Linked DNA regions of Homo sapiens. The protein of the gene in region 3 purifies or fractionates together with the protein of the main gene of each other region. This does not show direct contact. Each region holds a gene or a part of one and is shown on either strand. Other genes may lie near its edges.

Region 1 (3,713 bases), on a different chromosome or scaffold from region 3:
CTCCTATGGTCCCAGGTACTCGGGAGGCTGAGGCAGGAGGATAGCTTAAGCCCAGAAATTCAAACCAGTATGGGTAACATAGTAAGACCCATCTCAAAAAAATAAATAAATAAAAAATAAAGCTAAAAAGCGAACTTTAATATTTCTGACCTGTTTTTTACTCCTGTAAAATGAGAGTGATACTTTCTTCTCTCACTGGTTTGAAGGGAAAAGTTAGCTTTTGTAAAGCATATGTATAAGAAAATTATCTAAAAGCACAAGGGTTAGTCTATATGTTGGACATTTCTTTGCTGATAAAAACCTAAGGTTTGGACTCTTAGTGAGCAAAATACAAGTATCATATTAATATGCTTTAGTCGATTTGCTCTGATTTGTGGTAATATATAGGCCATATTATTGCATAGTTGACCTTTACCTTACAGTCATCATCTTTCATCCGTTGAAAGAAAATGGGAAAAAATGGAATTTAACCTATTAAATTAATTTTTCATTTAATTTGTCAACAGAGTCCTTCAGCCAAACCAAGGACAGAATGCACCTGTTCATAGGCTACTTAGTAGACAAGGGTAAGAATGCCACACACGGGTATTGAAAACTACGGAAACCAAGATTAGATTTGAGAGGGAAAAATAAATCTAGTGTTCTTTATGTAAAGGATAATGGTTTTTCAATGGGATTTTTTTTCTTTATAGCATTGGGAAAGATATTTTAAAGTTTTGTCTTCAAATGTAACCCTCTTGGTGTACTGTTGTGTATTCTAATTACTGTCTTAAGTTGGGATGTTTTTACTTTTCATTTCATACCATTTTACTCATAAAGTATTTTAAATATCCATATAGTAAATTCAGCATCACCGAAGTGATTCTCCAACAGAGTATGACTCGTGCTTATAGTCTCCTGCTGAAGCCAGAGTTTAGCTTTCCTTACTGTGCGCATGCATGAGACTTCAGTTCTTTTCAAGCTTATTTGTGCTTTGGACAGTTGATGCAATGTGATTGCTTTCTTTGAATTTTGAACATTTAGACCTTAATGCCAGTGACTTATTAATTTTTTTATATTCAATTAGAACCCCTAAGACATCAGTGAAGGGGGTTGTGCAAAATAGACAGAAGCCTTCACAGAGCAGAGTGCCTAACAGAGTGCCTGTTTCAGGTTTGTAGAAAATAAATTCCTGAAGCCCATTCAATAGAAGGAAGTGCACAAGCTGCCCCATAACTCAGGCCATAGAAGTGGAATAGATTGTCTTTCCTTGCCACCATAATTTTGGCATATTCACAGTCATCTTATTAGTGTTCTTTGGTCTTAGCATTGTATGGCAGTCAGGAAGTCTTAGTAAAAGTGTGATTCCAGTCTTCATTTCTATAATATTTCTGTGGAAAGCACCTTGTATTTTTCATTCTGAAAAAATTGTAGAATTTGCCATGCTTAATTCAGAAAACCTTTTTATTTAATGAATAAAAGATAACGATCATCTCTGGTGCTAAGTCTGTGCATTGTCTGTTCAGCTTGGGGAAGTGTATCTGCACATAAGGGGATAAACTTTCTCCCTCAGACTATAAGATCACATGTGAATATGCCAGTGGGAGGAGGGCTTCATATTTTGCTCAGTCCAAAGCTTGAGCTAAATCTCTCCTTATGTTCATTATTTGAGGATTAAGAGCTAAACTAAAAACTGTATTTTAAAATTCTGTTTATGGTGGCAAGAAGACAAACTCATTCTTGAGCAAATTCAAAGCTCTTAACCAAATGCTTTAATATTTTTTAGGTATCTTTGTTAAGACACTTTGATTAAGCTCACTTAAAAATTATGTGATCCATTTAAAAATACTTTCCAAATGTTGTGCTTTAACTATACTGCTTTCTAGACATTTACAACAAACCTAAATTAATCACCAGGCATTGAAGATTAAACCTTTAATCAATTTTAATCTTTCCATTAATATACAATTAGGCAAATTTTAGAGCTTTATTACTAAGTGATTTCCTTCAAATTAGGAGGGAACAAGCTATTGGTCGTAACTTTGAAATGATGGCTGACCTTTTGTATGTATGTAGTGAAGGTAATTCATAGTGTCACACATATATAGGATAATTTAAAAGATCATCTTTGGAAATCATTGTGAGTGACAGTTAATGGAATTGTCTTAAAGGATTACATAGCTGAAGATACTGTTTACTCCAGAGGCAGTCAGAATAAGCTAGTTTGAAAGATAACCATTTGAAAGGACTCAGACCAAACACCAAACCTGTGGAATTTTAAGACATTTTCTGTTTTTCTCATGTTAGTATTCTATATTGCACTGAAACTTAGCAAGTTGGAAAATCATTGAGGAATTAGTATTGTTTTGCCTGATACCAATTTGCCACAGTGACTACTCTCCATGTTCTTTTCTCATGCATTTCATCTCCACTATTTGTCACTTGTGAACTTATAAGCAAAATAGCAAGTACTGTTTTTATTCAGCAATACTCAACAGTATAAAGGATGTATAGTCAGTCACTGAAGTTAGTAACATACAATGAAGTTCATTATTTTGAACTATTGAGGTTAAATTGCATTGCAACATACTTATTAATACAAATGAACTTAACCCTTGAATTAATATGTATCTAAACAAGTACAAAAGTCTGTTGCTGTTGTTTTCTAAAGATTTACTTATACATGAGTGCATATTTAGACAATTGAAAGAAACTAAATAATTGTGTTCTTTTTTTTTTTTTGAGACAGAGTCTTGTTCTGTTGCCCAGGCTGGAGTGCATTGGTGTGATCTTGGCTCACTGCAATCTCCACCTCCTGGGTTCAAGCCATTCTTCTGCCTGAGCCTCCCAAGTAGCTGGAATTACAGGCGCGTGCCACCATGCCCAGCTAATTTATTGTATTTTTAGTAGAGATGGGGTTTTACCATATTGGCCAGGCTAGTCTCGAACGCCTGACCTCAGGTGATCCGCCCACCTCGGCTTCCCAGAGCTCTGGGATTACAGGTGTAAGCCACCGCGTCCAGCCAGAATTGTATTCTTTTATATAAACTGAGAGTTTGGGATATTGGCTGGTTAAAATGCTAACTATGAATCTGAACACAGGAACTCACTGTCGCTCTTGAAAAGATTACTCTTTCCTGCTTAGAGTTTTAATGGTCTGAATTATGTTTTAAACAAATTTGAAATTATGTTCTGATTTGCTCTAAATGGAGGCAAATCCTTTGTTAAGCAATTTATAGAAAACTAACTTTTCTTATGATAGAATATCATACTCTTAGACTGAAGTAGAATTCTAAAATGTTAAAGTATGCTGCAAAGCATTTAGTTATTTATAGTTTTACAAACCTAAATTGCAATCTCTGATGTTATCGTAAGTGATCTTTGACTTACGGTTTTAAAACACATTTCTTCATTTGATGTTTTGTGCTTGACTAGAGTTTATATAGTGAAATTCAGAAACCACTAATCAAAGCAGAGTAGGAGGTGGTCATGCAAAATGGTTAAGTAAAATAACACATCAGGTGGACTTGGGTTATCAGAGTTCTTCCTTCTAGCTCTGTTCCTTAGGCAACTGCTCTCCTATGCCTCAGTTTTATTATCCTTAAAATGGTCATAACAATTTCTACCTCAGGATGATTCATATAAGGATTAAATATGATAATGTATATTGCCTAGCTCAGTGTTTGTTCCAGAGTAAAAACTCATTAAATGGTATCATTATAGAAAACCTCCCA
Region 2 (4,230 bases), on a different chromosome or scaffold from region 3:
GGAGAGTTATGTAGACATCTGTTAGGTCCGCTTGGTGCATAGCTGAGTTAAAGTCCTGGATATCCTTGTTAACCTGCTGTCTCGTTGATCTATCTAATATTGACAGTGGGGTGTTAAAATCTCCCATTATTATTTTGTGGGAGTCTATGTCTCCTTGTACTCTCTGAGGACTTGCTTTATGAATCTGGGTGCTCCTGTATTGGGTGCATATATATTTAGGATAGTTAGCTCTTCCTGTTGAATTGATCCCTTTACCATTCTTTGATTGCCTTCTTTGTCTCTTTTTTTTTTTTTTTTTGTCTTTGTTGGTTTAAAGTCTGTTTTATCAGAGACTAGGATTGCAACCCCTGCTTTTTTTTTGTTTTTTTTTTGTTTGTTTTTTTTTTGCTTTCCATTTGCTTGGTAGATCTTCCTCCATCCCTTTATTTTGAGCCTGTGTGTGTCTCTGCACGTGAGATGAGTCTCCTGAATACAGCACACTGATGGGTCTTGATTCTTTATCCAATTTGCCAGTCTGTGTCTTTTAATTGGGGCATTTAGCCCATTTACATTTAAGGTTAATATTGTTATGTGTGAATTCAATCCTGTCATTATGATGTTAGCTGGTTATTTTGCTCGTAGTTGATGCAGTTTCCTCCTAGCATCGATGGTCTTTACAATTTGGCATGTTTTTGCGGTGGCTGGTACCGGTTGTTCCTTTCCATGTTTAGTGCTTCCTTCAGGAGCTCTTGTAAGGCAGGCCTGGTGGTGACAAAATCTCTCAGCATTTGCTTATCTATAAAGGATTTTATTTTGCCTTTACTAATGAAGCTTAGTTTGGCTGGATATGAAATTCTGGGTTGAAAATTCTTTTCTTTAAGAATGTTGAATATTGGCCCCCACTCTCTTCTGGCTTGTAGAGTTTCTGCCGAGAGATCAGCTGTTAGTCCAATGGGCTTCCCTTTGTGGGTAACCTGACCTTTCTCTCTGGCTGCCCTTAACATTTTTTGCTTCATTTCAACCTTGGTGAATCTGACAATTATGTGTCTTGGGGTTGCTCTTCTCAAGGAGTATCTTTGTGGTGTTCTCTGTATTTCCTGAATTTGAATGTTGGCCTGCCTTGCTAGATTGGGGAAATTCACCTGCATAATATCCTGAAGAGTGTTTTCCAGCTTGGTTCCATTCTCCCTGTCACTTTCAGGTACACCAATCAAACGTAGATTTGGTCTTTTCACATAGTCTCATATTTCTTGGAGGCTTTGTTCGTTTCTTTTTACTCTTTTTTCTCTAAACTTCTTGCTTCATTTCATTTGTTATAGCCACAGGAGTTAGAGAAAATGCCACACTTTGAGACAAATTAAGAGTCCTTTATTTAAGCCGGCGGCCAAAGAGATGGCTAATGCTCAAAATTCTCTTGGCCCCGATGAAGGGGCTTAACTTTTATACCTAGGTTTAGGAAGGGGAGGGGGACTTAAATGCAATAACTCTACAGAAGTAAAAACATGCAAGAATCAAAAGAAGCAAATGGTTACAGAGAAATGAACAATTTAAAAGACAAATGGTTACAAAAAGAGCAAGGGTACCAGGTGCAAGGCTCTAAATCCTTCATTATAGTTAGATATAAATGCTATGCCAGACAGGAACTCAAGGCTTTGTGTTGTTATCTCTTTGAGCAAAACCCTGGGAACTTCATACATTGTTTGCTCCAGTATCTTACCAGTTAATTGGGCTCCTTTGAAATGCTGAGGATCTGCTTACACAGGTTAACTCCTTAAGGAAGGGGGTTGGGTAAGGAGCCCTTAATGTCTTGTAAATCAAGAGGTCAAATGGAGTTTGTCCGGCTTTCCCAGCCAGGGAGAGTGTATTCATATGGGAAACATGGCTGGCAATTAAGGAGACAAAAAAAGGAAAATTTAAAGTAGTGAGCTAGAGTAAAAAACAAGGTTAGGCGTTACACATTCATTTGATCTTCAGTCACTGATACCCTTTCTTCCACTCGATGGAATCAGCTTCTGAAGCTTATGCATGCGTCACGTAGTTCTCCTGCCATGGTTTTCAGCTCCATCAGGTCATTTAAGGTCTTCTCTACACTGTTTATTCTAGTTAGCCATTCGTCTAATCTTTTTTCAAGGTTTTTAGCTTCCTTGAGATGGGTTCATACATCCTCCTTTAGCTTGGAGAATTTTGTTATTTCCAACCTTCTGAAGCCTACTTCTGTCAACTTGTCAAAGTTATTCTCTGTCCAGCTTTGTTCCATTGCTGGCGAGGAGCTGTGATCCTTTGGAGAAGAGGCACTCTGGTTTTTAGAATTGTCAGCTTTTCTGCTCTGGTTTCTCCCCATCTTTGTGGTTTTATCTACCTTTGATCTCTGATGATGGTGACCTACAGATGGGGTTTTGGTGTTGATGTCCTTTTTGTTGATGTTGATGCTATTCCTTTCTGTTTGTTAGTTTTCCTTCTAACAGTCAGGTGTCTCAGCTGCAGGTCTGTTAGAGTTTGCTGGAGGTCCACTCCAGACCCTGTTTGCCTGGGTGTCACCAGCAGATGGCTGCAGAACCGCAAATATTGCAGAACTGCAATATTGCTGCCTGATCCTTCCTCTGGAAGCTTCATCTCAAGGGGCACCCAGCTGTATGAGGTGTCAGTCGGCCCCTACTGGGAGGTGTCTCCCAGTTAGGCTACACAGGGGTCAGGGACCCACTTGAGGCAGTCTGTCCGTTCTCAGAGGTCAAACACCATGCTGGGAAAACCACTGCTCTCTTCAGAGCTGTCAGGGATGTTTAAGTCTGCAGAAGTTCCTGCTGCCTTCTGTTCAGCTCTGCCCTTCCCCCAGAGGTGGAGTCTACAGAGGCAGGCAGGCCTCGTTGACCTGCGGTGGGCTCCACCCAGTTTGAGCCTCCTGGCTGCTTTGTTTACCTACTGAAGCCTCAGCAATGGCAGATGCCCCTACCCCTGCCAGGCTGCTGTCTCGCGGGTCGATCTCAGACTGCTGCACTAACAGTGAGCAAGCCTCCGTGGGCATGGGACCTACTGAGCCAGGTGTGGTTTATAATCTTCTGGTGTGCCATTTGCTAAGACTGTTGGAAAAGCGCAGTGTTTGGGTGGCAGTGTCCCTATTTTCCAGGTACTGCCTGTCATGGCTTCCCTTGGCTAGGAAAGGGAAGTCCCCCGACCCCTTGCGCTTCCTGGGTGAGGTGATGCCCCACCTTGCTTCGGCTTGCCCTCTGTGGGCTGCACCCACTGTCCATCCAGTCCCAATGAGATGAACCAGGTACCTCAGCTGGAAATGCAGAAATCACCCATCTTCTTTGTCGATCACACTGGGAGCTGCAGACTGGTGCTGTTCCTATTCAGCCATCTTGGAACTGTATCCCCCAATTTTTTCTAATTTTTAATTTTGAGGAGGATCTTTCTGTTGATGCAACTGACAGTGGAGCTGCTAAGAGTATTTTGTAGGCTGTGCCAACATTTGCATAGATTTCTAATAAAGTATTTCCAAATATGAATTTTAGTTTATATAGAGGTGATTATTCTTGGGGATCAGATTTTCTAAAAAGATTTAACTCTTCATACACATTAGTTTCATACATGTTGGAATTTAATTTTAAATACAAATCTCTATGATGTCATTTTAATGTTTTCTCTAGCATGTTCTGTAACATATAAAGATCATATAAGAAACCAAAAATCACTTAATGATTTGTCTATAATTCACAGTGCTTGTTTATGCTTTCTATAGCAGCATCTTCAGTTACAAAGAAAAATTAAATTTAAAAATTGTATTCCTCATTAATAATTGGTTCATTAGAAATTGCATATGAGAATAGTGGGTTTTTTCCTATCAAATGCAACAATCTTTAATTTTTATTTCCAAACCTGTGGATGTTCGCTTTCCAGTGTTGTAGCAGTTTTTAAAACCAGAGATTCTAAACTCTTTGAAGGCTTCTAATATATCTCTGATATGCTTCATTGTAATGTCCACGTGTATGTTTTTATTTTCTAATAATTTACTGGCATTTATACTTAATGCTAGCAGTTCCTATCCCAGTTCTCAGGCCAGAAAGATGACATTTTTGCCACAGGGATGGGCTTGGGAAACAGACAACCCAGCCTCTCACCACTGCTGCTTCTGCCATTGTCACCACCATTAATTTGGAGCTAGGTTCTGGCCCCAGCTATCCCCTTAGGGCCCTATGTGGTACTCCAAACTGTTTTTGTTTGTTTGGTTGGTTGGTTGGTTGGTTTTTTGTT
Region 3 (4,230 bases):
TTTATTTTGAATAAGACTGGTATAAGCCAATATTCAGAACCTCTGACTAGAACCTAATCAATTATAATTATATGATTACAAAAAATGTCTTGCTTTTGCCATTGTTAAATAAAAGTTTGAATGCAAATATCCTATGAAATATAAATGTGGAAAAAGGGCAATATTTCCATGTGAACAGATCATTAATTTCAAATACATTTATAAAACTAAATTAATAAATTAAATGTTATATATTACTGTTTCATTTGCTTCCCTACAAGTTTATCATTCAAAATGAGGGGGGAAGTTGAAAATTCAAAATCGATCTGTTCATTGGAAACACAAGGAAGATTATTTTATATTCAAGATTATTTTATATTTGGAACTTCTAGGATCATTCGAAGACAAAGTCAGATCTGCAGATCTTTAGGCCTCAGATAACTGACTTCTCGCCTAGAACTTTAAAAAGCAGTTGAGAATCCAATTCTTAGCAAATATCTCAAAAGAAAACTGAATTTTGTAAGTGAATATCATAGAAAAATTGAGTGAGGTAATTTTATTTTAGAAAAATACTGTTAGGGAATGAAGTGATCTCAAGGGGTACTGCCAACTCACTCATTTAACTGATGAAATAATGCTGAAAGAGGCTGACTTACCCAAGATCATATGGCATGAGGGCTTACCATGCTAAGTGCTTTTCATGAATGATTTCTTAGTTTCCCATGACAACTCTATTCATGTCCCTACTTTACAGCTGAGGTTTAGAGAAGTTAAATGGCTTGCTCAAAGTTACTCAGCTAATATGTGGCAGAGCTGGGATTCCAGTCAGATCTCTCTAGCTTCAGAACCAGAGGGCTCAATGGTGTTGCTATACAAGTCTTCAGCTTCTCATCAGGACCCCCTGCCCAGAATCACATGGTTTTAAAAAAACATTTCGCCAGGTTTGAAATTCCTAAACTAATTTAATTGGAACAGAAGAAAACATCATTAGAAATTAGCAAAAACATTGGCAAAATAAGAGAAAAAGATATGGGGGAGAAAACAGGTCTAACATTATTTTGAAGTTTATAAAAACATCTAAAAATAAAAAAGGCATGAGTTATTCAAAGGAAGTCAATTTTACCTGGTTAATTCTCTTAGTCGAGTCACCTCAGCATCACGCTGACGTAATGTTATCCCCAATATCTGGTTTTCCTTTTCAGCAGTTTCTAACTTAAACTGGGAGCTTTTCACATTGACTAGGGCTTCCTCCAATTCTAAAACAACAAAAGTTTCAGTTTCCTTATTCCTTTTAAAAGATGTGACCATAACTACTGTCTAAATACGTACCAATTTTTATTCTTGTTATCTCAATATCATATTGCTGTTTATTTTCAAGTATAGTTTGATCTTTGTCTTTAAATATACTACTAAATTTTTTGTTTTCATCTTTCTGATTTTCAATCACTTTTAACAGCTCTTCATTTTTACTCTGCAGTAATTCCTGGCTCTTTAGTGACTCCTCCAATTGATTTTGCAGTGACATATTCAATGACTGAAGAGAAAACACTGTTAAGACAAAATGGATCAAATAGTTGTTTCCCAAACCTAAAAAGTACAAACTTGGAAAATACCTGTTTCTTAAAAAAAAAAAAAAAAGGCCTGAAATTTATTGATTTTGTTTAACGATTAATTGCATGAGCAGTTCTACATAAATACTACATATATTTTTAAAAATGATTGGCAGAAGTCATACCTTTCTTTTCCAGTTGACATTTTAAGCATTAATTTTTTAAACCCTTTTAAAAGAAAGAATACATAATCCTTTTAAAAGAATAATACATGTACAAAGTTAAAAAATTCAAACACCACAGAATGTCAATGATTCTCAATGAAGAATCTCCCTTCCACTCCTCCTCTCTGTCCCCAGAGACAATCAGTATTAATTTTGGTATCTTTCGTGAAAACACTTTTACATATGGTATTAATTACACTACATACACACACATACTATACACAATTTCTAACTTTGCCTTTTTTTCCCATAAGACTGTTGTATACAAACACATAGATCTATCACGTTCTTTTTCATGGCGATAAAAGTATATGGCACCATTTGTTGAGCAAATACATGCTCAGCGAATGCTTCCTATGTGTGAGGTATTGTATTAGAATCTGAATATACAGAGATGAACAACACAGACGTGGCCCCTGTTCTCACAGAGCTGATAACAAACAAGTAATTATACACAGTAATGATCTCAAAGAAACAATAAGATAAATGATCAGATAATATAAATAAGAGAAGCTATTTAAAGTGGCAACTACTGATCTCCCCACTTGTCCTCTAGGCCTCCTCTCTCCTACCCTCTCCCTTTCCTCACCTTTGGTTAACAGTGGAGACACAGTGATAATTTCTGAATCACTCTGGTGAAACTGAACACTTTTATAAAGTGCTCATTCTGTTGGGCAATCATATTTTTTTCTTATTGATTTATAAGACATATTTATATATTAAGAAGATTAAGCCTTCATCATGTCATGTATTGTTTCTCCATTTTGCTTATGTTTTGAATGTATTTATAATTTTGCTATGTAGAAACTGAAAAAGTTTTCTGGGGACATATTTTATCAATCTGTTCCTCTGTGGCATTTGAGTCTTTGTCAGGCTTAGGAAAAGTTCCCCTCCAAAAAAATAAAAAAATAAAAATTCTTATATTTTCTTCTGGTACTATTATAGTTTCTTTATTAAGCTCTGTGATCATTAAGGACAATTTGGCAATATCTGTCACAATTGCAACTGTATATACCCTTTGGCTCAACAATTCTACTGCTATAAATCTATCCTACAAAAATGCTGGCCAGGCGTGGTGGCTCATTGTCTGTAATCCCACACCTTGGGAGGCCGAGGTGAGTGGATCACTTGAGGTCAGGAGTTCAAGACCAGCCTGGCCAACATGATGAAACCCTGTCTCTAATAAAAATACAAAAATTAGACAGGCGTGGTGGCAGGCGCCTATAATCCCAGACACTTGAGAGGCTGAGGGAAGAGAATCACTTGAACCTTGGAGGCAGAGGTTGCAGTGAGACACGATCGCACCACTGCACTCCAGCCTGGGCCACAGAGTGACGCCGTCTCAAAACAAACAAACAAACAAACAAACAAACAAACAAAGCTGACATATATGCACAAAGACATATACAAAGATTTTCACTGCAATGTTGTTTGCACTGGGAAAAAAGGGGAAAGTACTATTAGCAAAGGACCATATTATGGTAGACCTGGATAAGCAGAATACCCAAGTAATTCTTAAAGAGAAAGATGCATAATTATGTATTTTGATAGACAAAAGTGTCCATTATATGTTAAGTGAATAAACAGAAGCTGTGGAAAAGTATGTACAGTGTGATCTCATTTTTAAAAAAGTACATATATAGTTCTATTTGTGCCTGGCACACAGTAGGTATTCAGTAAGTGTTAAATAAATCAATTATATATGAAGAGAAGATATGTAAAAGGAAACACACTCCTGTATTTCAAAACAAACAAACAAAAAAAGGTGTATATTATTGGGAAGTGACAGCATCTTTTATTTTCTTATGTTTCTACAATATTTTAAATTTATCCCCTCAAAGTAATTACAAAAGCTCAATTCTTTATCAACATTTCCGGAGCCACAAATAATTTATCAATCCTTAAAGTTCTTTTACCTACATTCAAGGTTGCAATCCACAGCACCAGATGGTTTTTGAGTTTTCTGTTGTTCTCTGAGTTGCTGGTTCAAAATTCTCAACTGCCTAAAGAAATAATGAAGAACTATGAATGCAAGCATACCAAGCCAATTTAATAGTATACATGTGATAGCCTATCAAAAAAGATAAAACATAAACCCACTAAGACAGCAGAAGTCCATCTCATCCCCAAAAGACAAAAACTAAATAAACAAAACAAAAACAAAACCATACTACTATTATTATGAGGCCTGAGATAATTTTTAAGGTTGCCTGAAACAACATAAAACCTCCCCTCATGGGCCAGGCGCGGTGGCTCACGCCTGTAATCCCAGCACTTTGGGAGGTCGAGGTGGGCGGATCACCTGAGGTCAGGAGTTTGAGACTAGCCTGGCCAACATGGCGAAACCCCATCTCTACTAAAAATACAAAAATTAGCTGGGCGTAGTGGCGCGTGCCTGTAATCCCAGCTACTTGGGAGGCTGAGGCAGGAGAATTGCTTGAACCTGGGAGGTGGAGGTTGCAGTGAGTGAGATCGCA
Region 4 (4,444 bases), on a different chromosome or scaffold from region 3:
GACTGTGAGGTGTGACTGTGAGGCGTGACTGTGAGGTGTGGACTGTGAGGTGTGACTGTGAGGCGTGGACTGTGAGGTGTGACTGTGAGGCGTGGACTGTGAGGTGTGACTGAGGTGTGACTGAGGTGTGACTGTGAGGCGTGGACTGTGAGGTGTGACTGTGAGGCGTGGACTGTGAGGCGTGGACTGTGAGGTGTGACTGTGAGGCGTGGACTGTGAGGTGTGACTGTGAGGTGTGACTGTGAGGTGTGACTGTGAGGCGTGGACTGTGAGGTGTGACTGTGAGGCGTGGACTGTGAGGTGTGACTGTGAGGCGTGGACTGTGAGGTGTGACTGTGAGGTGTGACTGTGGGTGTGAGGTGTGACTGTGAGGCGTGGACTGAGGTGTGACTGTGAGGCGTGGACTGTGAGGTGTGACTGTGAGGTGTGGACTGTGAGGTGTGACTGTGAGGTGTGACTGTGAGGCGTGGACTGTGAGGTGTGACTGTGAGGCGTGGACTGTGAGGTGTGACTGTGAGGTGTGACTGTGGGTGTGAGGTGTGACTGTGAGGCGTGGACTGAGGTGTGACTGTGAGGCGTGGACTGTGAGGTGTGACTGTGAGGCGTGGACTGTGAGGTGTGACTGTGAGGTGTGACTGTGAGGCGTGGACTGTGAGGCGTGGACTGTGAGGCGTGGACTGTGAGGGGTGACTGTGAGGCGTGGACTGTGAGGTGTGACTGTGAGGTGTGACTGTGAGGCGTGGACTGTGAGGTGTGACTGTGAGGTGTGACTGTGAGGCGTGGACTGTGAGGCGTGGACTGTGAGGCGTGGACTGTGAGGCGTGGACTGTGAGGCGTGGACTGTGAGGTGTGGACTGTGAGGTGTGACTGTGAGGTGTGACTGTGAGGCGTGGACTGTGAGGCGTGGACTGTGAGGCGTGGACTGTGAGGTGTGACTGTGAGGCGTGGACTGTGAGGTGTGACTGTGAGGCGTGGACTGTGAGGTGTGACTGTGAGGTGTGGACTGTGAGGTGTGACTGTGAGGCGTGGACTGTGAGGCGTGGACTGTGAGGTGTGACTGTGAGGCGTGGACTGTGAGGTGTGACTGAGGCGTGGACTGTGAGGTGTGACTGTGAGGTGTTACTGTGAGGCGTGGACTGTGAGGTGTGACTGTGAGGCGTGGACTGTGAGGTGTGACTGAGGCGTGGACTGTGAGGTGTGACTGTGAGGCGTGGACTGTGAGGTGTGACTGTGAGGTGTGACTGTGAGGTGTGACTGTGAGGCGTGGACTGTGAGGTGTGACTGTGAGGTGTGACTGAGGCATGGACTGTGAGTTGTGAATGTGAGGTGTGGACTGAGAGTTGTGGACTGTGAGATATGACCTGTGTGCAGTGTGACCAGGGGAGAGAGGTGCATGAGAGATGGTCGGGCACGGCGGGGCAACCTGGTTCCCCTGGGCGGTAGTCCGGCAGCTGTGCTTCCCCCTTCACTGCAGTGCGTGTTCAGTTGGAAACACGGAGATTTCACCTTTACTCCCTGGCTATAGGGGGATGGTGAGAAGGGGGCTGGGTGTGAGGGGATCTTCAAGGCAGAATCTTAGTTTGTCTTTTAAGAATTGTGTGCCGGGACGTGGTTGGAGGCTGGGTGCAGAAAGGAAGAGGCGAGCTGCTGGAGGAGGCAAGGACAGGTCGCTCTGGGCAGTTTTGTGGGTGCTGCTGTGTGAACCCCTGTTGCTGTGGCCTCAGCAGGGAAGGCTGGTCTGTGGTCAGTTCCTCCCCCTCCCCTCCCCCTTTCATTCCCTCTTCCTTTCCCCCGACCTCCCATTCCCGCTCCCTCCCCCACTCCTCAGGCTGAGGCTGCCACACTTACCTGGGTTCGACCACAGTCTGGTCATAGGCGTAGCCAGGCTCTGCCCCTTACAGGATAAAGGCCACAGACCCCCATGGGGCCCATCACAGGTGTAAGTTACAGAGGGGAAGGGTCCTGAAAGATGAGACTGGGCCAAGAGGAGATGCAGCGGAGCAGAAGGAAGGGGACTGTGGCGGCCGCGGGTGCAGTGCCCAGTCGTGGGCAGGGCCATGTGACTCCCTGGAACCTGGTGGGCCTGTCTGTGGCAGGTCAAGGTACAGTTGGGGGTCATTCTCCTTGAGCACTGTGGCCTGGATGTGGACAAGGCAGGGTGCACAGCTCCCAAACATGGTGGCATTGGGCTTCTGCCCCCAGGATTCATGCTGGCTTCATCCAGTCCTGGCCTGCGGCTCCTTTGCTGTCCAAGTGAACAGGGCCTGGGCCTGCACAGTGGCCCTGTCAGTGGGGTGCCCATCTCTGTGGCTAATGTGACCGAGGTCAGTGGGCCCTGCCTTGTCTAATACTTGTAATGCCCTGAGTGTCCTCAGGTCATCGCTGACTGGGTGATTAGGGCAATTTGGAGGTGACAAAGTGGGTAAAATGTAATAGCACTTTACTTCTAAAATAAAAATGGTCAACAGCATTAAAGACTAGGACTCTTCTATTGCACTATTATGATGTCAAAATTATTATATTTGACTGGGAATTAGAACTATTTCAGTCCCCGTATATTTTCTAGAATTAGAACATTGTTTTGCTAGCCATGAAGTTTATCATCTTCTCATAAAACCATGCGTAGCTGGAATAGCCAAGGCGCCATTCAGTCACTCATTAGCCTGTTCAGCTCATTCATTCATTCCATAGGTGCTGAGCCGCACCTCCAAGGCTGCTCCCAGGGGTCAGGACAGTGGTTGGGAAGGAGGAGGCAGGTGGGCGGTAGCCAGTGGGACACAGAAGGTGATGGGGCCACAGAGATAGGTCTGTGTGCAGGGCCAGGGCACCTTCGTGCCCATGCAGGGAGGTGGGCAGGCCCAGCAGGTGAGGGCCACACCGCTGGAGAGGACGGAAGTGCCAAGCAGCCGCTTCCCTGTTGTTCTGCAGCTCCCTGGTCAGCACCAATGAACACCTGCTGCAGGAGCTGAGCCAGGTGCGGGCGCAGCACAGAGCCGAGGTGGAGCAGATGCACTGGAGCTACCAGGAGCTCAAGAAGACCATGGCCCTGTTTCCACACAGCAGCGCCAGCCATGGAGGCTGCCAGGCCTGCTGACTCCTGCCGAGAAGCTGGGCCACCCCTTAAGCTTCCTGGTAAAGTTACATTGTCTGCACCTTTGTACTTCTTTATTGAGTGTACTGGCTGGCAAGAGTTCTCTCTTCTGTTGGTAATTATTTAGGATTTTTGGAATGTATTCAGGACCTGTAGCTTGGTTTTCTAAAGCACCTCGTAAAATGATATGATTACTCCAAGCCCTCTGCATGTTTTCAGACAGAACACATTGACATATTTTGAGACAAACTGACTATTAATCTTGTATCCAGTATCCTGAGATGAAGTAAATGCAGTGTTCTACTGCCTGATGTGAAAGAGAGCTATGTATGATAATTAAAGAAAATAATTTTCTGTGTAACAAGCAATCTTTATTTAATAAACAAATACATTGTTCTGAAAAGTTAACTTTTTCAGTGGCTGTATACAAATTATAACTGAGTTTGTCATTGAGTTTTTTATAGAACAAGCTGTGCACCATGATAGGTGAGTGGGAATAATTAAGTTCAAAGACTTAACACAAGTGACACTTATAGATGTGGGGGAAAAAACCTTAAAAATATTGTCTTATGATATTAACATATCACAGCGGAAACATCTACCCAAGCCCTGGCTCGCTCTCTTGTTTGCAGTGTAGTTCTGAAAATTATGTCATAATAGGACACAAAACTAGATTTTTAGTTTGGAAACTTCATATCTTATGTCATACTTGCTGTGATTGGTAAGACAAGGTCATTTTTTAAATGACGTTCAACTGATTTGGGAAGAATGAGCAGGCCTAAGAAGAAAATGCTCTGTGCTAGCTCTGTGTGTGTGTGTGCCCTTGCTGTGTGTGTGTGTGCCCTTGCTGTGTGTGTGTGCTGTGTGTGCGCTAGTGTGCGCTTGCTGTGTGTGTGTGCTAGCTGTGTGTGTGTGCTGTGTGTGCGCCTAGTGTGTGTGTGCTAGCTGTGTGTGTGCTAGCTGTGTGTGTGTGCTGTGTGTGCTAGCTGTGTGCGCTTGCTGTGTGTGCTCTGTGCGCGTGCACTTGCTCTGTGTACTAGCTGTGTGTGCATGCTAGCTGTGTGTGCGCTTGCTGTGTGTGTGCTAGCTGTGTGTGCATGCTTGCTGTGTGTGTGTGCTTGTGCGCTTGCTGTGTGTGTGTGCAGTTGCTGTGTGCTAGCTGTGTGTACGCTTGTGTGTGCGCTGTGTGTGCGCGCACGCACCCTGTGTGTGTGCTGTGTGTGCACGCGTTGTGTATGTGCACTTGCTATGTGTGTGCTTGTGTGCTAGCTGTGTGTGTCTGCTAGCTGTGTGTGTGTGTGCTTCTGTGTGTGTGTGTGTGTGCGTGTGGATTGTATCCCTGGGGAAATCAGA
Region 5 (4,230 bases), about 81 Mb from region 3:
AGTTCCAGGAGTTTTTTTGTTCTTTTTTTTTTTAATAGATTCTTTGAGATTTTCTGCATAGACAATCAGTCATCTGCAACCAAGGCAATTTTATTTCTTCCTTTCCAAAATATATATCTTTTATTTCCTTTTCTTGGCTTATTCCATTAGGTAGAACTTCTAGTATGATGTTGAAAGAGAGTAGAGAGAAGGGACATCTTGTCATGTTCCCAGTCTTAGGGGTAAAGCGTGTAGTTTCTCACTGCTAAGTATGGTGGTAGCTGTATGTTTTTTGTAGATGTTCTTAATCAAATTGAAGAAGTTCCCCTCTATTCCTAGTTTACTTAGAGCTTTTATCATGAATGAGCATTGGATTTTGTCAAATGCTTTTTCTGTGTCTACTAATATGATTGTGTGACTTTTCTCCTTTAGCCTGTTGATGTGATAGGTTTATGTTAATTGATTTTCTAATGTTAAACCAGCCTTGCATACCTAAAGTAACTCCTATTTGGTCATGTGGTATAATTTTTCAAATACATCATTGGATTCAATTTGCTAATATTCTTGGAGAGGAAGTTTGTTTGTTTGGTTGGTTGGTTGTTTTTTTTTTTTTTTCTTTGAGACAGGATCTCGCTCTTTTCCCCGGTCTGGAGTGCAGTGGTGCAATCATGGCTCACTGCAGTGAGAGGAAGATCTGAGAATTACCTCCCCTCCTTTCACTTGACTGGCCCATCAAACTCTTTCTTTGCTGCAAAACTCGCTGTTTTTAGTGCATTGGTTTTCTGAACAGCAGGCAAGATGAACCCGTCAGGCTGTTACTTGCTTCCAGCTGTCTCTTCTTCCTCTTCCCTCTCCTTCCCTCTCTCCCACCTCCTCACTCTACACCTTCTCCTCATGCTGCTTTGTTCATACTCTAGGTCTCAACTACCTGAGGCTCCAGCTCAGACTTCCCTTCTGAACCCCAGACCCACCCAGCATCTCAGCCAGCCAGCTGCCCACCCAGCATCTCAAAGTCCACCACCTTGTCTGCAGCGTGGAAAACTGCTCCTCTGTCAGGGCCTGCTGTCTCCCCAGTCACTCAAACCCAAACCGCCTAGGTTTCTCCCCTCTCCTTCTCTGCATAGTTGCCTTCAGTCCCTTCCATTTGGCAGCAATTCCTCTTCCCCCTCCTCCATCTCCACTGCTACAGTTTTGATTTAGGCCCACATGGCTTCCCAGAGACCCCCTCCTAGCTAGGCCCTTTGCCTCCAGCTCTGCAGAAGGCAAAGCTGATCCTGTGTGCACCCTCTGAACATCTCCAGCGCCTCAGGATAAAGTCCAGGCTCCTTAGCTGGGCAGATCAGACCCTTCTTCTGGTGCCTCCCCAAATGTGCCCTGCCCTCTGGCCATTCTGAACCTTTCATAGTTCCCCACACTCATCACATTCTCTGCACATGCTGTTCTGGCAGGAGAGCCCGTTGCCCCCCACTCAGGCACCGTCCCTTCCCCACCCAGGTGAATTTCTTCTGCATTCAGCTTCAAATTGACTGAGATGCCTGTCTCTCCTGCAGCTTCTCTCTCCCCAGACAGCCTCTCAGAGTGCTTAACACCTCTCATTCTCAAACCAGCTGAACGTTAGGCTCACCTGGGAAGCTTTAAAAATACAAAAATGTTAGCTGGGCGTAGTGGTGCATGCCTGTAGTCCCAGCTACTCGGGAGGCTGAGGCAGGAGAATCGCTTGAACCCAGGAGATGGAGGTTGCTGTGAGCCGAGATCGTGCCATTGCACTCCAGCCTGGGCAACGAGAGTGAAACTCCATCTCAAAAAAATAAAAATAAAAATAGACACCCTGGCCACAGCCCAGATAATTAATTTCAAATCTCCACTGGCCTCATGAATAGCACAGATTAGATACTAATACTCTGGGGGCCGGTCTGGACCACAGGTGTCCTCTCAGTGCAGGCATTACTGTCTATCCCAGAGGCTCCGTTGGGCCAAGAGCACCACTTTTCATACAGTGATAATGATAATTATTTCCATGCATTCTTCCACTTAATCTCACAAACTCCCTGTGAAGTTCGTAAGTATCAGAGTCCCATTTTACAAATGGGAAACGAAAGCAAAGAGGTTAAGTAATTTGCCTGGGGCACAGTGTACATTCAATGAGTACCAGTTCCTCAGTGACTTCAAGTGCAAATTGGGAGTAGAAAAGGAGAAAAGCTTTACAAGTTACTGTGTTCATTCATTCAGTGACAATTCTACAAATGACAGTTGAAGGCCTGTTCTGGGCAAGATGTTGAGATTTAGCAAATGAATAAGGTATTAGGACCCCTGCCCTTAAGAGGTCTCTTTGTAAAGGGAAGTAATGTAAATAAAATAATAGATAATTATAATACACTGAGGTTAAGTTTAGTGATCAAGGGGTGCCCTAGGGATTCTGGGAGTCCACAGAGTGCCCTGAGGGGAATCCTAGAGGCTAACTGGGAGTTAGTGGGAAGGTAAAGGGCTGGGATGGGGAGGCCTGGGAGGAAGGCCTCCCAGGTAGAGGAGTGGCTGAAGCCAGCCTCTGAGATGCCACTGGGCTTAATCCACAGCAGGAGCCACAAACCCAAAACATCTGCTGTGGCTGATGGGAAATAAAAGTGAATCCAGCAGGTTTAAGAGAAAGAACAACATTTATGTGCAGTGATAATGGGCAGCTGATGTGCCAGCTGCAGCATCTGGAGGTGGCAGGGACAGTGGTTTAATGGAAAGAACCTATTATGCACCAAAGGAACTCTCTGCATAGCAGCTGCTGTCCGTGTGGGACGATGGGCCCAGCATTGCCAGATCTGTAAACTTTTATAAAAGAAGCTGGTGTAAACTAAACATAAAATTCAGAGGCCCCCCATCCATCTGAATGGACTTCCTTCTCAGCCAGGGCACTCCAAAGTTAACCTGAAAGACCAGTTCAGGCCTTGATGGGAAGCAAGGGTTGGACACGCCTCATTATACCCTCCTCCCTTTTGGAATTCAGGAAAAGTTGACCAACATTTAACATCAACACAGACCTTAAGTCTGATAAGAAACATTTACAATCTATTCTCTCTGAAGCCTGCTACCTGGAGGCTTCATTTGCATGATCAAAACTTTTATCTCTTTTATTCTAACCCAGATATTCCTTTCTATTTATAGTAACTCTTTTAACCAATTACCAATCAGAAAAATTTTAAATCTACTTATCACCTGGAAGCTCCCCCCTCCCAACCTTGGAGTTGTCCTGCTTTTCTGGACCAAATCGGTATATATCTTAAATGTATTTGATTGATGTCTCAGGTCTGCCTGAAATGTATAAAACCAAGCTGTGCCCTGACCACCTTGGGCACGTGGTCTCAGGATCTCCTGAGGGCTGTGTCACAGGCCATGATCACTCACATTTGGCTCAGAATAAATCTCTTCAGACTGGGTGCAGTGGCTCACACCTGTGATCCCAGCACTTTGGGAGGCTGAGGTGGGTGGATCACTTGAGATCAGGAGTTCAAGACCAGCCTGGCCAACATGGTGAAACCATGTCTCTACAAAAACATACAAAAATTATCTGGGTGTGGTGGTGCATGCCTGTAGTCCCAGCAACTCAGAAGGCTGAGGCAGGAGAATTGCTTGAGCCCAGGAGGCAGAGGTTGCAGTGAGCCAAGATTGTGCCACTGCGCTCCAGCCTGGGTGACAGAGCGAGACTTCATCTAAAAAAAAAAAAAAAAAAAAGTACATCTCTTCAAATATTTTACAGAGTTTGACTGTTTTTGTTGACACTGGAAATCTGATATTGAAACTACAATTCTTTGAATGTTGGCAACAAATTCAAATCCTAACATAGTGTTCTGTAAGAGCCAAACAAAAATGTCTGTGGGATGTGTTAAACTAACTGTAGCCTAAAGCTGCCTTCTTATATATTCTAAGTTCAGCCTAAAGGTTTCTCTGTACGTAGTAAACTGTAACCTGACTAGGAATTTAAACAGACTGCAATCTACTCTTGTACCAGTCACAGAGTTTCAGCCAATCACAGGCAGCCAGCTATTCAAATTGTATTCAAAAAAGGCAAACAGCCAGCTGTAATCAGTCTAGCTGTTTCTGTACCTCACTTGTGCTTTCTGTTCATCACTTTCCTTTTTCTGTTCATAAATCTTTTTCGACTAGGTGGCAGCCCTGGAGTCACTCTGAATCTGTTCTGGTTCTGGGGGCTGCTAGATTTGTGAATCATTCTTTGCTCAGTTGAATTCTGTTAAATTTGATTTG
Region 6 (4,230 bases), on a different chromosome or scaffold from region 3:
CTCAGGCAATCTGCCTGCTTTGGCCTCCCAAAGTGCTAGGATTACAGGTGTGAGCCACCACGCCCGGCCAAGATTTTTTTTTTTTTAAATAAAGACAGGGTTTCACTATATTGCCCAGGCTGGTCTTGAACCCCTGAGCTCAAGTGATTCTCCCACCTTGGCCTCCAAAAGTGCTGGGATTACAGGCATGAGCCACTATGCCTGTCCAAACTTCCAAATTTATGAGCACCTTAATTATAAGCACTTTGGGAACACAAAACCCCCTTTTATTTAGGAAGTTATAACTCATAAACTTTCGCAGAGTGTGATGAATATATCATTTCTAATTTCACGTAGGCGAACAGTTGTCTCCAAACGTGGTGTTGCCGTCAGTGGTCCCACCAAGAGGAGGGGAATGGCAGATTCACTGGAGTCAACCCCCTTGCCTTCCCCCGAAGATCGTCTGGCCAAACTCCATCCTTCTAAGGAGCTCCTGGAATATTATCAAAAGAAGATGGCTGAGTGTGAGGCAGAAAATGAGGACTTGCTGAAGAAACTGGAACTCTACAAAGAAGCTTGTGAAGGACAGGTAAAGAAACGATGCTGCTGCTTTAGAACTCTGATGGAGTCTTCATAAATTAGAGATGCCCTACAAGTGCCAGTTTATATCAGAAGCAGATGTTTTATAAAAATACTCCTTTTTTATTCCCCAGCCCAGCTATTGCCCCTTCAGGCCCTCCTTGGATCATAACCCCCAAAACTGCCCTTCCTCTCAAATCTTAAATTCTGACATCTCCATATCTCTTATACCTAGTTCTTTCATCTCCTTGTACCTGAGTAGTCCTTAACTTCTTTGTTACCTCCATAGCTTCCTGACTTTTCAGTTTTCTGAGTGCTGTATATAGCTCTGATATCAAGTCCTTCAAACCTAAACCCCATGATGCTTTACTTGAGTAGTAACTGCAGTGCCTGCAAATGACCCCTTGCTCAATTATTCTTCTGCTCCACCTGCATAGCAAAAACTGAGCTGTGGCATCATCCAGTTCTCTGCCACGTGTTCTCCTATAGCAGGATTTCTTAACCTCGGCATTATTGACATTTTGGCCTGGATGATTCTTTGTTGTGAGGGGTTGTCCTGTGCGTGATGGGATGTTTAGCAGGATCCCTGGCCTCTACCCGCTGGATGCCAGTAACACAACACCCCCAGCTGTGACAATCAAGAATCTCTCCAGACATTGCCAGATGTTTCTGGAATGGGTGTATGGATGTGCAGAGTCACTCCTGATTGAGAACACTGTTGTAGAAAGGTCACAAATCAGTACAGAATGAATCGATGGTAAACAAATTCAGCTGTACCCTCAACCATTATACAGCAGTCTTCTCACCTATCCTTACTGGCTTTCCTCTCCTTCCACATCTGTGCCATACCCTCACCTCTAGCCTGCAACCCCTTCTTAGCCCTCCTCTCTCAACATCTTTTCTGCCATCTGCACACCGTTACTCCATCCGTATCTATCTCCTTCTTCCTTCCTTTGTTTTTTCTCTGGTTGCTTTTCTTTTTTTTTTTGAGACGGAGTCTCGCTCTGTCGCCCAGGCTGGAGTGCAGTGGCGCGATCTCAGCTCACCACAAGCTCCGCCTCCCGGGTTCATGCCATTCTCCTGCCTCAGCCTCCCGAGTAGCTGGGACTGCAGGCGCCCGCAACCATGCCTGGCTAATTTTTTGTACTTTTAGTAGAGACGGGGTTTCACCGTGTTAGCCAGGATGGTCTCAATCTCCTGACCTCGTGATCTGCCCACCTCGGCCTCCCAAAGTGCTGGGATTACAGGAGTGAGCAACCGTGCCCGGCCTGTTTTTTTGTTTTTTTGAGACAGCGTCTTACTCTGTCGCCCAGGCTGGAGTGCAGTGGCGCGATCTCAGCTCACTGCAAGCTCCGCCTCCCGGGTTCACGCCATTCTCCTGCCTCAGCCTCCCGAGTAGCTGGGACTACTGGTGCCTGCCACCATGCCCAGCTAATTTTTTTGTATTTTTTTAGTAGAGACAGGGTTTCACCGTGTTAGCCAGGATGGTCTCGATCGCCTGACCTCGTGATCCACCCGCCTCGGCCTCCTAAAGTGCTGGGATTTCAGGCATGAGCCACTGCGCCCGGCCTCTCTAGCTACTCTTTTTATATAAATGGCTCTTTCTTTTCCCAGTCACACTTCCAGAATCTTTTGACTTTCCCATTCACTGAATGGGATTTTTTTTTTTTTTTTTTTGAGACGGAGTCTCGCTCTGTCGCCCAGGCTGGAGTGCAGTGACGCAACCTCAGCTCACTGCAAGCTCTGCCTCCTGGGTTCAAGCAATTCTCCTGCCTCAGCCTCCCGAGTAGCTGGGATTACAGGTGCACGCCACCACACCTGGCTAATTTTTTGTATTTTAGTAGAGGCAGGGTTTCACTGTGTTGCCCAGGCTGGTCTCAAACACCTGAGTTCAGGCAACCTGCCTGCCTCGGCCTTCCAAAGTGCTGGGATTACAGGCGTGAGCCACCGCGCCCAGCTGGGAAATGTCTTGACTGCAGTTTCATCTCGGTCCTTGCCATGCCACTAAAACCGTGCCGTCTGCGGTCTCCAAATACCTGTTTACCAAACTTTTCTCTTTTTGCCCTTTGCAGTGTCTGTCACTTTTGACCTCTCTTTTTCTAAAATTTTCTTCCTTTCTTGATTTCCTTTTTTTTTTTTTTGAGACGGAGTCTCACCCTGTCTGCCAGGCTGGAGTGCAATGGCACAATCTCGGCTCACTGCAACCCCTGTCTCCCGGGTTCAAACGATTCTCCTACCTCAGCCTCCCAAATAGCTGGGATTATAGGTGCCCACCACCACACCTAACTAATTTTTGTATTTTTAGTAGAGGTGGGTTTTCACCATGTTGGCCAAGCTCATCTCAAACTCCTGACCTTGTGATCCGCTTGCCTTGGCCTCCTGAAGTGCTGGGATTACAGGCGTGAGCCTGGCCTCCTTTCTTGATTTCTGTGTCATTTTTCTTTCACAATTTCTATCTAACCTCTCTGATCAGCTCATCTCAGTGTCCATTAACAACTCTCTTTCCTTACTCTTAAATTTCAGAGTTCTTCCAGATTCTACTATAAATGACCTTGTTTTATCCTTGTATTACACTTCTGCATACGGGATGATGACTGTTAAATAACTAACCCTGACTCACTTTTCTCCTGAGGCTCCTTTCTCTACCCTCCCTTCCCCACCCGCACATGTACTGCCACCATTTCGCCTTCCTCCGTTTCTCATGCCTTAACTTTTTCTTTATTCTTTGTCTTGGCAAATGGCATCATTGCCTACGGTTCTTCCAGTCCCCCTAAACCGAATCATTTGGCAAGTCCTGTTGATTCTGCTTCCTAAATATTACTTAATCCATTCCCACACCCACCTCACTTTGGCCACGATGCTCACACAGACCCTTGAGTTGCGTCTAAACTGTGACGGTGTCCTCCTTGCCAGTACCTGCCTCTGGCCTCTTACATCCCCAGTTGGCCTCACACTTTTCACTCTAGCAGTACTGAAATATTTGTACTTGTCCAAATTTAATAGGCTTTTGTTTTTTGGAGGTTTACTTGTCATTTTTATCACATTATGTATGTATACAATGAATTACAGGGTAATTCATTCCATTTGGGCTCCTGGATAGCTTCAGGATGGGAGCTGGTTGCCAGATGGCAGTGATGCAGCATCTCTGAATACATTTACTGGGACACAGTGTGAGCCACCGTGCCCAGCCTAATTGTTTTTGTAGATTCTACAAAAAAAGTGTTTCCAACCTTTTGAGTTCCACTGTGGACTTGTATGCTCTCCCTTTCTCTGAATCAGTTGTTAATATTTATTAACATAATTATTAACATAATATTATGTTAATATAATCAACATAATATTATGTTAATATAATCAACATAATATTATGTTAATATAATCAACATAATATTATGTTAATATAATCAACATAATATTATGTTAATATAATCAACATAATATGTTGATATTATTAACATAATTAACATAATAATATGTTAATATTAACATAATTATTAACATAATAATATGTTGATATTATTAACATAATTATTAACATAATATGTTAATATTAACATAATTATTAACATAATAATATGTTGATATTATTAACATAATAATATGTTAATAAAAATGTAATAAATATTTTTATCACATTATGTATGTATCTATAGACCTCTGGGTTTTTTGTTT
Region 7 (4,230 bases), on a different chromosome or scaffold from region 3:
TGCAGTCTTCTATCCTTTGTCCTGCCAATTCTAGTTCACTTAATCTCCACTACTTCTCAGCTCCACCTCTTAATAAGAGTCCAGTGGTCTCCACTTGCATTTCCTCCCCCCGTGTCATGGCCCTGGAAAGTCTCTTAAGTCATTAAGGTGGGGCAATCATAGGGCTTACCTCATTTGTTTCTTGTCTCTGATTATCATTGTCTGATGTCTAGTGTACTATAAGGTATTGATGATTTTTTTGCTTGCTTTTTCATGTGTGTCAGGCAGAAAAGTGGTCCATGTTATTTCTTCTTGAGTATAAGCAGAAGTCCTATTCAAGTTGCCCTACTTTTTGATGTCTTAAACTCAAGTATCTTACTCCTACTATAACTGTTCTTTGACCTCCTCATCCTTTGAGCCCTTCATTTTCTTTACCACCTTGACTGCTTCCCAGTTTGTTTTTACTGGTGTCTTTTACAGGCTGTAACCATTGCCCATTAGTCCTTCTGCGCTTGTCAGTAATCTTAATATGATTATACCCCTGCTTTTCTATAGCTGATGCCCAGTAACACCTCATGCCATGATTGGTTGGTTTGCCTTTACAGTTCTCATACCAAATGCTGTTTAGTACCTATAGATAGCTGAACCCTCTGGATAAGTGCCTTCACAAAGTCAAGGTTAACAGAGCTAGTAAGTGACTGAGCTGGGATTTGAACCCAGGCAGTCTAGTTTCAGTGTCTCTTTTCTTAACTGCTACACAAAAAGCATACTTGCAAGAAAGGAAAACTGTAAACCTGTTTCACTTATGCATGTTGGAACTAAAATCCAAAATAAAATATTAGTAAATTGAAACTAACAATGAATGTGTGTGTGTATATATATATATATATATATATACATACATACACCAGCATCTTCAGGTATCCAGGAAACGCAAATTAAACAAGCCAGATAAGTACTTGTAGAATGAAGGAAATAATAACATTTAAGTTACAGTAAAATTTTCTCCAGATTATAGTCAATCTATGAAGATTGAAAGTGTTTCCCTCATTATTAATACATAATTTACTTCTTATCCTATTTTAATTACTGAGGACACAGATCTAGTTTTTTTCTTAATTGAAAACTCTGTCAGGGAAAAAAAAAGAGGTTTGTATTGTGATTAATTTTTTGTTTTAAGTTTTTCTTTTTTTAAAATTTATCTTTTAAGTTCAGGGGTACATGTGCAGGTTTGTTATATAGGTAAACTTGTGTCATGGGCATTTGTTGTGCAGATTATTTTGTCACCCAGGTATTAAGCCTAATACCCATTAGTTGCTTGTCCTGATCCTCTCCCTCCTCCCACCCTTCACCCTCCAATAGGCCACCGTGTGTGTTGGTCCCCTCCATGTGTTCTCATCATTTACCTCCCACTTATAATTGAGAACATGCCGTACTTGGTTTTCTGTTCCTGCATTAGTTTGCTAAGGATAATGGTCTCCAGCTCCATCCATGTTCCTGCAAAGGAGATGATCTCGTTCTTCTTTATGGCTGCATAGTATTCCATGGTATACATGTACCACATTTTCTTTAGCCAGACCACCATTGATAGGCATTAAGGTTGATTTCATGTCTTTACTCTTGTGGATAGTGTTGCAATGGACATACATGCTCATGTGTCTTTGTGGTAGAATGATTTATATTCCTTTGGGTGTATACTCAGTAATGGGATTAAAGGGTCGAATGGTATTTCTGTCTTTAGGTGTTTGAGGAATCGCCACACTGTCTTCCACAATGGTTGAACTAATTTACATTCCCACCAAAATGTATAAATGTTCCTTTTTCTCCACAACTTCACCAGCATCTGTTATTTTTTGACTTTTTAATAATAGCCATTCTAACTGGTGTGAGGTAGTATCTCACTGTGGTTTTGATTTACATTTCTCTAATGATCAGTGATGTTGAGCTTTTTTTTGTATGCTTGCTGACCGCATATATGTCTTCTTTTAAAAGGTGTCTGTTCATGAGCTTTGCCCACTTTTTAATGGGATTTTTTTCTTGTAAATTTGTTCAAGTTCCTTATAGATGCTGACTATTAGACCTTTGTCAGATACACAGTTTGCAGAAATTTTCTCCCACTTTGCAGCATGTCTGTTCACTCTGTGGATAGTTTCCTTTGCTGTGCCAAAGCTCCTTATTTTAATTAGTTTCCATTTGTAATTTTTGCTTTTGTTGCAATTGCTTTTGGCATTTTTGTCATGAAACCTTTGCCTACTCCTGTGTCCAGATGGTGTTGCTTAGGTTGTCTTCCGGGGTTTTTATAGTTTGGGGTTTTACATTTAAGTCTTTAATTCGTCTTGAGTTATTATTTATATATTGTGTAAGCAAGGAGTCCAGTTTCAGTCTTTTTTCATATGGCTTGCCGGTTATCCGAGCACCATTTAAAGTAGGGAATTCTTTCCTCATTGCTTGTTTTTGTCAGGTTTGTTGAAGATCAGATAGTTGTAGGTATGTGGCCTTAATTCTGGGTTCACTATTATGTTCCATTGGCCTATGTGTCTGTTTTTTGCACCAGTACCATGCTGTTTTGGTTACTGTGGCCCTGTAGTGTAGTTCTAAGTTAGGAAACATGATGCCTCCAGGTGTGTTCTTTTTGCTTAGGATTGCTTTGGCTATTCAGTCTCTTTTTTGGTTTCATATGAATTTTAAAGTTTTTTCCAGAGAAACGTTTCATAGTTTTCTGTGTAGAGGTCTTAAACATCTTCTGTTGTATTTATTACTGGGCATTTATTTTTTTTTATGGTACTATAAATAGCATCTTTTACTGTTTTCTAACTTTATGCTGCCAGTATCTAGAAATATAATTAATTTTTATATATTGACCTTGTATCCAACAACTTTGTTAATCTTCATGATTGATTTTTAAGTATGTATCTGTGGTTTTTTTGGATTAATCACATATGCACTCATAACTATGAATAATGACAGTTGTTTCATCTTTTCCAGCCTTTGTGTCTTTTAGGTCTTTTACTTGCTTTACTGCATTAACTTAGACCTCCAATAGAGTGTTGAGTAAATGTCATAAGAATTTATCCTTATGTGATTCCTAATTCAAGGGAAAGTTTTCAACATTTTTACTCATGAGTATGATGTTTGTTGTGTATTTTACGTAAGCATTCATTATAATAACAGTGTTCCCTTCTAGTCTTACTTTGATAAGGCTTTATCATGAATATATCTTGAATTTCATCAGGTGCTTTTTTAAAATAACTTTTGAGATGATCATATTTCTTATCATTTTTTGTGAGTTTATTTTCAATTTCTTTATTTTCTGGGCTTATCTTTATTTACTCCACTTGGCTTTCTTTGGATTTAATTTGGTGCTGTTTTTCTAACTTCTTGGAATGCATTTGTAACTTCAGACTTTTTCTCTAGTATATGCAATTAAAGCTACAGATTTCTCTTTAAGCAAGTTTGGAGGTATCACATTTTCACTATTGTTCACTTCAAAATACTTTAAAATTTATTTTGTAATTCCTCCTGAGATCTTTCTTCTTTTTTTTTTCTGAGATAGAGTCTTGCTCTGTTGCCCAGGCTGGAGCGTAGTGCAATCATAGCTCACTGTAGCCTCAAAGTAGCCTCAAACTCCTAGGCTCCAGTGATTCTCCTACTTTGGCCTCCCAAAGCAGTGAGATTATAGGCATGAGCTACCATGCCTGGCCAAAAGTGATTTCTGAACTTCCAAACATATAGAGGATTTTCCTTTTTTTTTTTTTTTTTTGGTTCTTGATACTAACTTAATAGTGCTATTGTAAGATAACATACTGTCTTTGGTTTCAGTCCTTTGAACATTATTGAGACTTTCTTTTACCAGTGAATAATCAACATTAAATGTTCTGTGTGATCTTGAAAAGAACGTGTGATTGCAAATTTGTTGGGTACTATGTTGTATGTATGTTACTTTTCTTGATGTAAATAAAAGTATGGTCTTGTTATTTCTTTTTTTTCTTTTTCTTTTCTTCTTATTCTTTTTTTTTTTTTTTTTCAGAGTCTCACTCTGTCACCCAGGCTGGGGTGCAGTGGTGCGATCTTGGCTCACTGCAACTTCTGCCTCCCGGGTACAAGTTATTCTCCTGCCTCAGCCTCTCAAATAGCTGGGATTACAGGCGCATGCCACTACTCTTGGCTAATTTTGTAGTTTTAGTAGAGATGGGGTTTCACCATGTTGGCCAGGGTGGTCTCGAACTCCCGACCTCAAGTGATCCATCTGCC

Evidence for each region.
Region 1: the proteins of CCDC14 (region 3) and CCP110 purify together in Homo sapiens (affinity purification with mass spectrometry; one large-scale study listed by BioGRID and IntAct). This does not show direct contact.
Region 2: the proteins of CCDC14 (region 3) and KIAA1328 purify together in Homo sapiens (affinity purification with mass spectrometry; one large-scale study listed by BioGRID and IntAct). This does not show direct contact.
Region 4: the proteins of CCDC14 (region 3) and CEP72 purify together in Homo sapiens (affinity purification with mass spectrometry; one large-scale study listed by BioGRID and IntAct). This does not show direct contact.
Region 5: the proteins of CCDC14 (region 3) and CCDC13 purify together in Homo sapiens (co-immunoprecipitation; one study listed by IntAct). This does not show direct contact.
Region 6: the proteins of CCDC14 (region 3) and CCDC77 purify together in Homo sapiens (affinity purification with mass spectrometry; one large-scale study listed by BioGRID and IntAct). This does not show direct contact.
Region 7: the proteins of CCDC14 (region 3) and SCLT1 purify together in Homo sapiens (affinity purification with mass spectrometry; one large-scale study listed by BioGRID and IntAct). This does not show direct contact.

The regions. Positions count from the first base shown.
Region 1 is NC_000016.10:19,547,449-19,551,161, forward strand, and holds part of CCP110 (centriolar coiled-coil protein of 110 kDa), read left to right. Parts: intron 1-506; coding exon 507-566; intron 567-1,066; coding exon of another isoform or gene 1,067-1,152; intron 1,153-3,713.
Region 2 is NC_000018.10:37,216,619-37,220,848, forward strand, and holds part of KIAA1328 (protein hinderin), read left to right. Parts: intron 1-4,230. UniProt on the Homo sapiens protein: Competes with SMC1 for binding to SMC3. May affect the availability of SMC3 to engage in the formation of multimeric protein complexes.
Region 3 is NC_000003.12:123,930,000-123,934,229, forward strand, and holds part of CCDC14 (coiled-coil domain-containing protein 14), read right to left. Parts: intron 3,757-4,230; coding exon 3,674-3,756; intron 1,528-3,673; coding exon 1,309-1,527; intron 1,236-1,308; coding exon 1,103-1,235; intron 1-1,102. UniProt on the Homo sapiens protein: Negatively regulates centriole duplication. Negatively regulates CEP63 and CDK2 centrosomal localization.
Region 4 is NC_000005.10:650,060-654,503, forward strand, and holds the end of CEP72 (centrosomal protein of 72 kDa), read left to right. Parts: intron 1-2,928; coding exon 2,929-3,094; 3' UTR 3,095-3,494; downstream 3,495-4,444. UniProt on the Homo sapiens protein: Involved in the recruitment of key centrosomal proteins to the centrosome.
Region 5 is NC_000003.12:42,762,973-42,767,202, reverse strand, and holds part of CCDC13 (coiled-coil domain-containing protein 13), read left to right. Parts: intron 1-4,230. UniProt on the Homo sapiens protein: Required for primary cilia formation and promotes the localization of the ciliopathy protein BBS4 to both centriolar satellites and cilia.
Region 6 is NC_000012.12:411,411-415,640, forward strand, and holds part of CCDC77 (coiled-coil domain-containing protein 77), read left to right. Parts: intron 1-336; coding exon 337-568; intron 569-4,230.
Region 7 is NC_000004.12:129,082,960-129,087,189, reverse strand, and holds part of SCLT1 (sodium channel and clathrin linker 1), read left to right. Parts: intron 1-4,230. UniProt on the Homo sapiens protein: Adapter protein that links SCN10A to clathrin. Regulates SCN10A channel activity, possibly by promoting channel internalization.